Linked DNA regions of Homo sapiens: region 1 is linked to region 2. Evidence: fine-mapped expression QTL. Tissue or cell type: sun-exposed skin. Region 2 holds a variant in brackets; the other region holds the start of a gene. All regions are shown on one strand. Distances are between the middles of the regions.

What was found. PIP is the estimated chance that this variant, and not a neighbour inherited with it, causes the effect.
Region 1: STRC starts here. The variant in region 2 is the best candidate, but not a certain one, in a credible set for the expression of STRC in sun-exposed skin (GTEx, PIP 0.58).

What each region holds. Positions count from the first base shown.
Region 1 is chr15:43,617,518-43,620,017 of GRCh38, forward strand. It overlaps STRC (stereocilin), which reads right to left and starts at 1,283. Exons shown (of 29, transcript NM_153700.2): 1 at 1,142-1,283; 2 at 54-839. The coding sequence starts at 1,205.
Region 2 is chr15:43,721,461-43,724,300 of GRCh38, forward strand. No RefSeq gene overlaps it. Among named protein-coding and RNA genes, the nearest start is that of PDIA3, 24 kb to the right of the region's middle. The variant T/G (reference allele first, on the strand shown) is at 1,422.

The DNA of each region.
Region 1 (2,500 bases), 100 kb before region 2:
ATTTCACTTTCCTTGCCCTGCCACATCCCAGTCCCAGCCCTGGCCACACTCACCTCCCTGGCACTGCCCATTGGTATCAGGCTCTGGCTGCCCCAAAATGGAGAAGACCTCATCCTGCAGGGAGTGAGTGACACGGAGCAGCCCCTCCTGAAAGGCAGCATAGAGGGGGGCCCCCACTGTGCGTAGCAGACCGCCCCAAAGAGCCTCCTTGGAGCCTAGCTCCCCTGTTGGGGTAAGCAAACCCAACAGACCCTGCAAAAAGTGAGGAGCTGCCTCCCTCCCATCGAGGCCTGTGGCATTGGTGGGGTCCACACTGGGCTGCACCTGCACCAGAGCTTGCCAGCGTGTGCCCTCTAACAACAGCAGCAGAGAAGGCAACCAGTCAGCAGCCAGGACACAGTCAGACGGCCCATCACGGGTGCATGGGGGCCGAGTTGGGGTAGGGGGGCCCCCAGGAACTAAGGCTCCCAGCAGCACCTCCACAAGTCCACCCAGCACCCCTGCCTGGTGCACCAGGAAATCTCGGGGAGTCTGCTCCTGTCCCAGCAGTGCCAGCATATCCCCTAGCAGCCCTAGCATTGGCTCCCAGTCGGGGCTACCTCTCAGTGTCACTAGAAAATCATGGAGCCGCAGAGCAGGCGGCTGGAGAGGTGGGGGCTCTCCTACTGGTCCTTCCCCCATTCTCCCAGGCTCAAAGGAAGAAGAAATGTTGGCCAGGAATGTAAAGAACCGTGAGCGGCTCAGGGAGCCCTGGGGAGCCTGGTCCAGAGTGGAGAGCAATGACTTCAGGAAGGAGAGACCAGGGTCCAGGGAATGAGGCCCAGTAGGGGCCAGAGTCACTGTAAGGAGAGAAACCAGAGGTCACTGAAGGAGAGGAACACAGAGCCCAAACTCAACCCTGCCCCTGAGCACAGTTCCCTACCTGGATCTAAAGATGAGGTGAGGGGATGGTGAGCTGAACCCCTTTCACTGGCCTACAGTAAGTCTTGGCCTGCTTTTCTTAACCCTCATTTTTCCCTTTTGCACAAGTCTCTGCCTCTCTCCTTTGTCCTTCTATCTAACAGGTTCACCTCCATATTCTTAAAGTCTTTTTCCAGCCACCCTCCTCCTCATCCCCAGTTCTGCTCACTGTTCTTCTTACCTGCAAAGGACAGCAGCAGCAGCAGCAGCAGCAGCAGCAGCAGGGGCCAGAGGCTGAGAGCCATGTTTCCAAGTGAACACTGGTACCGGAGGTGAGTTCTGGTTATTCTCACCTGTGTGGGATAGCCAGGTGAGGGCAGGGCACTGCAGGCAACCTGAGGCTCCACTGACACTGTAGTGTGGTCTTTCAGGAAACAATATGTGTAACCTGACAGCAGGTTTGTTACCTGAGCCGCTGAATATCTGATCCTTTAGCTCTGGAGAAGGGTATGCTTCTGTGAGAGGGACTAATGATAGGGGATCCCAGGGGCCCCTCAGAGAAACCCAAGGAGATTGCTTGAGTTAGGAGCCAGTGATGCAGAAAGGAACAGGCAGACATGGAGATGGAGAACTGGAGACCAGGGGTGTAATCTGGGGTTCTGCAGAAGCAAAGAAAACAAAGAGGATATGAAGGAGCTAAGAAGCAAGTAGGATTTGAGGAAATTGAAGAAGAAATGACGCCCAGGAGAAACAAACTGCACAGCAAGGTATAAACAGACGAGAGGTCCAGTCCAAGGATGGAGAATTCAGGAAGAGGAGAGCTGCTTTCAACTACTACCCAGAACCACAGAGTGTCAAGAGCTGAGCAGTACCCCAGAGATCACATACACCAAACTTTTTCACTTATGGATAAGGAAACAGACCCAGAGAAATGTGATTTGCTCATTAGGCCATTCAAATGTTTGGGTCTTTCCTTCCCCCTCCGGGATCCCCTATCATTTGGTTCTTTCTCTGTGGCCTAGGTGAAAGCCCTATCAAAAACTCTGAGCTGAGAAGACAGAAACCAGATTAAATCACTATGCACAGGGACTGATCTCCCTACACACAGAACTGCTCATGGAACAGAGAAAGAGATTTCATTCAAAATAATCTGGTCTGGTCAGGGTTAGAAGTCTTTTTTCGTCATTTTTGTTTTTTGTTTTATTGGTTTTTTGGTTTTGGTTTTTTTGAGATGGAATCTCTCTCTGTTGCCCAGGCTGGAGTTCAGTGGGGCTATCTGACCACTGCAACCCCTGCCTCCTGGGTTCAAGCGATTTTCCTGCCTCAGCCTCCCAAGTAGCTGGGATTACAGGCACGTGCCACCACACCCAGCTAATTTTTGTATTTTTAGTAGAGATGGGGTTTCACCATGTTGGCCAGGCAGGTCTTGAACTCCTGACCTCAAGTGATCTGCCCACCTCAGCCTCCCAAAGTGCTGGGGTTACAGGTGTGAGCCACCGCGGCATTTTTTTTTTTTTTTTTGAGATGGAGTCTCACTCTGTTACCCAGGCTGGAGTGCAGTGGCACTATCTTGGCTCACTGCAATTTCTGCCTCCTTCAT
Region 2 (2,840 bases):
AAAATTAGCTGGGCATGGTGGCATGTGCCTGTAGTCCCAGCTACTCGGGAGGCTGAGGCAGAAGAATCGCTTGAAACCGGAAGGCAGAGGTTGCACTGAGCCAAGATCCCACCACTGCACTCCAGCCTGGGCAACAAGAGGGAAACTCTATCTCAAAAAAAAAAAAACAACAAAAAAGAACAGATGCCTCCTTTTTTTTTTGAAACTGAGTCTCACTCTGATACCCAGGCTGCAGTGCAGTGATGTGATCTCAGCTCACTGCAACCTCCACCTCCTGGGTTCAAGCAATTCTCATGCTTCAGCCTCCTGAGTAGCTGGGATTATAGGTGTGTGCCACCACGTCCAGCTGATTTTTTGTGTTTTTAGTAGAGACAGGGTTTCCCCATGTTGCCCAGGCTGGTCTCAAACTCCTGGACTCAGGCAATTCACTTACTTCGGCTTCCCAAGTGCTTGGATTACAGGCGTGAACCACCATGCCCAGCCAGATGCCTCTCTTTGTAAAGTACAATTATTTTTCTCTTTTTTTGGTTTGGCTTTGGTAACTGAAATATTTATTGCTTACTAGATATCTAGGTGTTTTTCACATTTCCCAGGTCTCTTGCAGTTAGCTGGGCTCAGGTGATTAGTTCTGTTCAATGGACTGTGGTTGAACAAAGAATTTAAGAGCTAGCAAATGAGCCTCCAACAATCTCTTCCCTGTTGAGGCAACCTAGAAACCACATGTTGAGATGGCAGTGTCACAAGGTCAAAATAGCCCGAGGCTCCAAATTACCACAGCATTTACAGTCAGTCTTTGTCATTTGTGAGTTCTGTATTTGTGGATTTGCCTAGTCACTAAATGTTTGTAACCCAAAATCAATACTTACAGTGCTATTGAGGTCATTCACAGACTTGTATTGAGAGGTGACAAGTTGGAGTCACCTGATATACACGTTCCCAGCTGAGGTGGAACAAGGCAGTGCTCTGCCTTCTTGTTGCAGCTCTCATGGTGTAAATATTAGTGTCTTTTTTTTTTTTTTTTTTGAGACGGAGTCTTGCTGTGTCACCAGACTGGAGTGCAGTGGCGATCTCAGCTCACTGCAACCTCCGACCCCCTGGTTTAAGTGATTCTCCTCCCTCAGCCTCCCGAGTAGCTGGGATTACAGGCATGTGCCACCACCCCCAGCTATTTTTTGTATTTTTAGTAGAGACGGGGTTTTACCATGTTGGCCAGGATGGTCTCAATCTCCTGACCTCATGATCCGCCCACCTTGGCCTCCCAAAGTGCTGGGATTACAGGCGTGAGCCACCGCGCCCAGCCAGTGTCTTTTTTGAGCTCTATCTAGTGATGCACTTTTTGTGTTTTGGGGCTGTTTGTTGGTGATTTCACCGTTTAAAATGGCTCCTAAGCTTAATGCCAAAGTGTTGTGTGGTGTTCTTAA[T/G]AGCAAGAAGGCTGTAAAGTGCCTTATAGAGAAAATGTATGCTAGAAAAGCTTCATTCAGGCCAGGCACGGTGGCTCACGCCTGTAATCACAGCACTTCAGGAGGCAAAGGAGCGGCGGATTACTTGAGGCCAGGAGTTTAAGACCAGCCTGGCCAACATGGCAAAAAACCCATCTCTACTAAAAATACGAAAATTAGCCAGGTGTGGTGGCGTGTGACTGTAGTCCCAGTTACTTGGGAGGCTGAGGCACGAGAATCGCTTAAACCCAGGAGGCGGAGGTTGTAATGAGCAGAGACTGTGCCACTGCACTGCAGCTTGGGCGACAGAGTGATACTCCGTCTCAAAAACGTCAGAAGAGACTAATTTGAGTAATAATAGTAAAACTCCAGTCTCCTGCACAGCCAGCTCTGTGTGGGAAAAAGAAAGAAAGAGAGAAGGGGCAGGGGAGAGAGGGAGAGGGAAGGAAGGAAGGGAGAAAGGAAGAAAGGAAGGAAAGAAGGAAGGAAGGAAAGGAGGGAGGGAGGGAAAAAAGGAAGAAAAGAAAAAAAGAAAAGGGAAGAAAAGAAAAAGTCAAGAGGGTATATCTGTGTAGTGTTTTGGGGGAAAAGGGAAGGAGGGAATATTCATCAAATACCTATGAAGCAGTGCCTTATGAATCTTTTTTTTTTTTGCAACCTCTGCCAGCCAGGTTCAAGCTATTTTCCTGCCTCAGCCTCCTGAGTAGCTGGGATTACAGGCGCCTTACACCGCCCCCAGCTAATTTTTGTAGTTTTACTAGAGACAGGGTTTCACCATGTTGGCCAGGCTGGTCTTGAACTCCTGACCTCATGATTCACCTGCCTCGGCCTCCCAAAGTGCTGGGATTACAGGCGTGAGCCACCACACCCGGCTGTTCTGAATCTTTTATGTGCAGCTACATCACCTGATTCAATAGGCCTGGGGAATGGGGCCTGAGATTCTTTTTCCTTTTTTTTGGTTGGAGTTCAGTGGTGTGATCTCAGCTTACTGCAACCTCCACCTCCCGGGTTCAAGCAATGCTCCTGCCTCAGCCTCCTGAGTAGCTGGGATTACAGGTGTGTGCCACCACGCCCAGCTGATTTTTGTATTTTTAGTAGGGACAGGGTTTCACCATGTTGGTCAGGCTGGTCTGGAACTCCTGACCTCGTGATCCACCCACCTCTGCCTCCCAAAGTGCTGGGATTACAGGCGTGAGCCACCATGCCCGGCCTCTATACTTATTTTTTTAATTATTTTTTAGTCTCTTGCTAGTGAGAGATTCTACACTTCTAACAAATGACCAGATGAGGCCAATTCTGCTCATCTTCAGGCCACACTTTGAGCAAAACTATTCAAGAGCATCTCCTTTGTGGATAATATATGTAAGATTTATGATATAATGCTTCCTTATTCTGTTTTAT